Linked DNA regions of Homo sapiens. The protein of the gene in region 2 purifies or fractionates together with the protein of the main gene of each other region. This does not show direct contact. Each region holds a gene or a part of one and is shown on either strand. Other genes may lie near its edges.

Region 1 (2,663 bases), on a different chromosome or scaffold from region 2:
CAGATGAAGACACCGAGGCTCAGAGTGGCCTGTTTAAGGTCATATATCATCAATAGGGTGTTGGCTGAGTCCCAGCCCTGCTCATTCTATTTATTTATTTATTTTTAAAATTTATTTTTACCTTTATTTTTAAAACAAACATCTCAGAGTAAGCCCTGCTCATTCTAACAGCTAAGGCAAGCAGGTCGAGGGAGACAGAAGAGGTCTTGGGTCCCAGATCGGGAATCCCAGTTCTGAGGTGCAAGGGCCGCTGTGCCTCACTGGCTACCCCACGTTCCAGCATGTGCCTGGCATGGCGAAGCCTGGACAGCCAGAAAGGCTCCCTCTGCAGAGCCCGCCTCTTCTGTATAAGACCGGGCAGGTGGGACCTGCAAATGCGCCGTTTGGTGTCATGGTGCTGGCACTGGCTCGAGCCCTTGTCACCCAGCTCCTCCTTGGTGCCAAGTGGCCAGAGCACTTCTAGAACCATCTGCTGGGTTTGAGATCAGAAGCCGGCGGCCTGGTAAGAATTCAGGTTTTCTTGGGCCCCGCCCACTGGAGCTGGGCCATCTGTGGGCAGTTCAGGGGGTGGTCAGTGTGGGGGCCGGGTTTGGGTGGGTTCCACTGTCAACCTTAGGAAAGGGTTAGCCCAAAGGCCACAGGCATCTTGGGGACAGCTGTCGTATGCAGAAGAAACAGAACAAGAGCTCAGCAGCAGGAGAGAGATGCCGATGCCATGCTACTTCCATTAAGGAATTTATTTCTCTTTTAAAAACAACAACAGTGGCTCCATCTAGATCCAGCGGCACTGTGACGCGATAGACGGAACACACAGAGTTACAGCAGCGGGAGAACAGAAGCCGCTGCCTTCAGGAGTGACCGCCACTGTGGAAGTTTCCATTCATTAATGTCCAAATCTCCCTGAAAAAAATTAGAAAGCTTTGGATGCTAGAAGGATTCTTATTATTTTAACAACACCAAAAGCCACTAAACTCTTCTAATTGAGAACACTCGCTTAGGGACTGTTACAAAAATGACTTCTTGATGGACTAGGGAAAGACATCTAAATTCCACTTTGGGGGGGAAGTGTCTTTCTCTGCCAGGGAGAGCTGGCTTTTCAAATGTTTTCAATCACTGTCTCCGGCACAAGCCTTTACGTTTAGGCCAGGTGAGACACCCCCGGCCTGTGCAGGGTCTGACTTGCACACGCTGAGCTTCAACAGCTGGGTGGTGGGTGGGGAGGGCAGGCGCAGAAGGGGTCTCTGGGAGAGGAGGCTTTGCAATCGTGGTCTATTGTGATCAGGAAGATGGCAGCTCTCTGTATTCATAATCCACACAGCGATGTCACTTCCAAATGCACAAAGACTTCATACTCACTATCTTTCCACAGCCGGGGCTAAAAAGTTGGAAGATCCTATCTCAGAGTGTTGGGTTATGAAAACAGGAGACCACCTCTTGGAAGTACAGGTATTCAGGAGGACGTGCATGCACACCAGGGGACCCCAGAGGACAGCTGAGTGTCACTCAGGTGTTTCCTCTTCTTCTCAGAGATTTCCAATTATCCAGGAAGCCACCGTCCCCTTTGGCAAGGCCTGGGATGCCAGGCTCAAGGAGGCTGCGGTGCCCCCTCCGTTTTGAGGGCAGCGGCTCGGTGGGAAAGTCGATGGGTAGCTGGAACTGATAACACGAGCCTTTGGGGAAAGGACAGGGTGTGGAGGAAGAGAAGGGATTTCTGCAGCGGGGCCAGGCTCCCGGGAGACGCATGGAGACTTGCGGGCCTCAGGGAGGGAAGGCCTCGGTATCCTCAGGGGCTCACCTGGGCTCTGATCCTACTTGTGCTGTCAATGCAAAGGCTGTGTGTGTTCCCAGGACTTCCCACCACCATTTGTCTCGGCAGCTGCTTGCTGGTATGTGTATGACCCAGGCCTCACAGCTGTGTCTGTGGGGCAGGCTAGGCCTCCCCGCCCCCGCCCCTCCGAGCAATGCCTTTCAGGAAGCCTCCCGTGGCTGCGCAGGCCACAGCAGCAGCGAGCAGCCCTAGAGCCCCGGGTTCCCGGCCAAGGAAGAGGCGAGAATGGGTTGCTGTGGCATGTGAGTGCATCGTCCGCAAGGCGGGGACCGGGTCTTCTTGCTATTTTGGGTGGTATTCTGGGTGCCCCCCAGGGGACTCAATAAACACTTGTAGGGCATCATGGTGACCATGGCAGAGACCGCCTCTGTCCACCAGGGACAGCAGCTCATCTCCTGAAATGCAGATGCAGAGACGCTTCTGAGAGATCCCATGTCTCACCTCAAAGTCACGAAGTCAGTGAACGTCTGGTGAAAAAAAATGTCATGCCTGGAGCAAGAAAGACTCTTCTGTGAAGCGCTCAAATGCATGAACGAGAGTAAATCCGTTCACCGTCCAAATATGCCTTATCCTGGACAGGTAGATGGGTGGACAGTGTTGTTTGCTTTTAATTTTAAAATATCTTTTAAAAAATGACCGTATAGGCCAGGGACAGTGGCTCACACCTATAACCTCAGCACTTTGGGAGGCTGAGGCAGGAGGATAGCTTGGGCTCAGGAATTCGAGGCCAGCCTGGGCAACATGGGGAGACCCCCCCCCCATCTCTACAAAAAATTTTAAAAATTAGCTGAGTATGGTGGTGCACGCCTATGGTCCCAGCTACCTCGGAGGCTGA
Region 2 (3,551 bases):
TTTGTGCCAGGTCATCTACCTTTTGCATCTGGAAGAGTCTTGATGACATAGCTCATCACTATCTCCACCTCCTCTTCCCTGTGGCCAAGTTGAACTTCATGCTTTATTTTCCACAAAGTGTCATACAGCTGTAGAGAATCTCAGCCCAAGTGGTCCTTCCACCCTAAGCTAAAAAAAGAGGCACTAATTAGGTTTTCACTCTTTGGCTCTCCCATTGAACCACAAACCAGCAAGGACCTAATTATGCAGTGTCTGTCCTTTTAGACTCAAGTGACAATGATAGACTGACCTCAGAGAGAAGTGAAAAGCCCCCAGCCTCATCCTCGAAGCAACCAGATTCATTCATGGAGTGTGGTGGAAAGAGCATTGAGCCCTTTGGTTATATTCCTAGAACACTCTGGACTGGACCCACAGAGTCTTTTATCTCCCACTGAACTGGCTTCTATATAGCCCACTATGTCTACATGGGAGAATGCCTTGGGTAGATGATTCTAGTAATAATCCTTCTCCTCCCAGAACCTCTGGACTCATGCCTTGTAGCCTCCTTCCCCTTTCCATCTCTGACATTGTGCAATCCTAGAGTTCTCTATCCTGCTGTGTCCAGGTCAAAACTATTGGAGAAATCTGGTGTAATCAAAGGGACTCCAGTTTAAGTACCAACTCCTACTCACACTTCCTGCCCTCAGTATCCTCATCTGTATTGTGCAGATAATAACATCTCCATCAATGAAATAATGATGGCAGAGTCTAGCATGGTGCACGGTTCATAAGTGTTTATTCTCACGTTTGCTCTCCACACAGAGGAGTGCTCTTTGGCAGTGGTGATTGTGTCATCTCTGTGGCTAAAGTGGGGTCTGGAGGCATCACCACAATACCAGCAACTAGAGACTCCTCAGCCTCAAGAGGTTGCAGACAGGTCAGTCAAGAATCCAGGGTATCCATGCATTTTTCTGACCTCATCTTGGAACTTGAGGCTGGAGAATAAATGGGCCTTCAAAGCAACAAATCCAGGGATCTTGGAGAATGCACTGATGGAGTTCCTGGGTATCCCAGGCCCTGGAGCTTTGAGGAGGCAGTTGGGGGCCGGTGGGTAGCCCTTGCCTGACCTCTGCTCATCAGCTGGCTGCCCTTGGGCAAGCTGCTTCCTGTCATTGGGACTCCTTTTCCTTGTCTCTAAAACAAGGGGCTTTAGGGCCATCTATGGCTCTGCCTTCACCTCATACTATATTGAAGCTGAATTCATCATTGTTCCCTGAAACCCCAAAGACTCTCTGTATTTCTCATCTCCATAGATGGCATTGCTATTCACCCACTGCCCAAGCTACAGGCCTGGCTGCCATTCCTGCCCTCTCTCCTCCTGCCCCCTCAGCCAGCCAGGTGGATGCTACCTCCTAAATGTGTCCTCACTGGATCTGGTCCTCTCCATCCCATTGCCTTTCCCCTGGCCCAGGCCATCTGAGTGGCTGCAAAAGCTTATTCATCGGGCTCCCTGACTCCAGGGAGCCCCCAGTTGCTCCTCTCTGACTTATTTTAGCCTGCTGGGGACTTCTCTTACAAACATAAACCCCTCCTACTTCCAACTCCACAGTGGCACCGCTGTCCCCATGGTGAGCCCCCAAGTGCTTACCACAGGCTGCAGGGAGGGCTTTGCGTGGTCCAGCCCCCGCCTACCTTTTAGATTCAGCTCACACTTTGCTCTCCCTCCTCCTTCTACCCTCCAGCCACCCCGACCTTCTCCTGGAACTCGAGATGGTCATTCATGCCTCAGCGGCTCTGTGTTGGCCGCCTTCTGTTTGAGACTTCCCCACCCCGACCCCGTCCCCCGCCTCGTGTGCAGTGGTTCTGAATTTAAATCTCCCTTCGTCAGGGATGTGGTCCCTGATCCCCCCTGACAAGTCAGCCCCTTCCACTGTGTCCTCCCCTGGTGCTCTGCACGTTTCCATGGTAACCTGGGCCACTGGTCATGGCTCCTTCCAGGTTCATTGTCCCCTCTGGACCATGAGCTCCATGACAGCAGGACCGCATTAGACTCATTCCGCACCAAAGCAGCCCAGCCTAGGGCTGCCATCGCAACACAGCCTTGTCTTTGAGGTGTGACTGATAGAAATCATTTCCTTTTCCAGTTGAAGGATGACCAGCAGCCACGTGCCCAGCTCAGCTTGCGTTTATTGGAAACTGCTTACCCAGCACTCCACAAAGGAGCTTACAGCGGGGTGACACTTAGGACTCCTATGGCCTAATCCTGGGATTAGCACAGGGCCATGGGCTGGTGGACAGAGGGAGGGGTGGGACCGGGCATGATGGGAGGGAATGCTGAAGACCCAGGAAGAAGGAACCAGTGGGTCACTACAGATGCTTCAGTTTGGCAGGGAGCTGTGCTGTGGGCTTGTGTGCAGGCCTTTCTCTTGGCCCTGGGGTGGATGTGTGTGTGTGTGTGTGCGCGCGCGTGTGTGTGCATGTGTGTGTGTGTGCACAGGCGCTCACGGGTGTCATGTGAGTGGTAGGTGGAGGGAGGACAGCTGAACAGTTGGCATCAGGCGTTCTTCATCTTTTCCTTCACTTTTTGAGGCTCAAACTGGATCAGTCGCAGAATTTCCTTATTGGCCAGTGTCCCCTCAATGAATTCTTTCTCTGTAAGTTTATCTGTGCATTGGGAAAAAATATATACGTACATAAAACAGTCAGGATTGATAGCCAAGTGAGCTGCGATGAGGCTGACATCTAGCCAGTATCCCCAGTGTGAATGTATCTATTATAAGAATATTGAATACTCAGTGGCCCTGAGTATTCAATATTCCCCCACCCCAGTCCAGATACCCACCTCCTTTCCCATGACCCTTGGAGCTCCCTGCAGACCAGCAAAGAGCGGTGAATGACTGGCACTGGGGGGGCCCCCAAGATGCCAGTCTTGTGCTATGTGTCTCTTCCGATTGGCCGGTGCCCCTGCCTTGCTGGTTATTAAATACTTCAATAATTAATAACTATTAATTGTTATTCTATTTTCTATAGTAGCTCAAGTTTCAAGGATCAAGTTCAGGAGGAGCTTCTGGGGGTCTGAGCATAGCAAAACAATCTGGATGTCAGGCCCAGAGTCTCAGCTGAGAAGCAGGGAACAACATCCCTCCAGAAATAGGAGTGAGAAGTGAAGGGCCCAATGAGATCATGCCAGGGGGAGTGTGGCTTGCAGAGAGGTCTCTTTGGCACCTGCAGCACACAGGCAGCCCCATGATTCCTGGCTGACAACTCCGCCATGATCCCTTCCTATGCATCCATCCCTGCGTCCCCCAGTCTCATCTGCCTCCTTATTTGGGATCAGGACTGAGAGACAGCCTTGTTGCGCCCACACCTGGTTTTCCGGTGTTTTTAATCAGGTGGCTAACTGTATTCAGATCAGTCCAGTTAAATGCATGGTCCTGAGCCCAGATGCCACTGTGCTTGGAGCCAAGGCCACCACAGGGAGCGGAGGCGGGGTGTACAATAGAAGAGAGTGAGATGAAGTCCCTCCCTGGGAAACTGTTGACCTGGCGGGGAAGGCAGTCACACGCAGAAAT

The links.
Region 1: the proteins of RCVRN (region 2) and GRK5 purify together in Homo sapiens (affinity purification with western blotting, with the first as the bait; one study listed by BioGRID). This does not show direct contact.

What each region holds. Positions count from the first base shown.
Region 1 is NC_000010.11:119,457,802-119,460,464, reverse strand, and holds the end of GRK5 (G protein-coupled receptor kinase 5), read right to left. Parts: 3' UTR 720-2,663; downstream 1-719. UniProt on the Homo sapiens protein: Serine/threonine kinase that phosphorylates preferentially the activated forms of a variety of G-protein-coupled receptors (GPCRs).
Region 2 is NC_000017.11:9,895,562-9,899,112, forward strand, and holds the end of RCVRN (recoverin), read right to left. Parts: intron 2,644-3,551; coding exon 2,534-2,643; 3' UTR 759-2,533; downstream 1-758. UniProt on the Homo sapiens protein: Acts as a calcium sensor and regulates phototransduction of cone and rod photoreceptor cells. Modulates light sensitivity of cone photoreceptor in dark and dim conditions.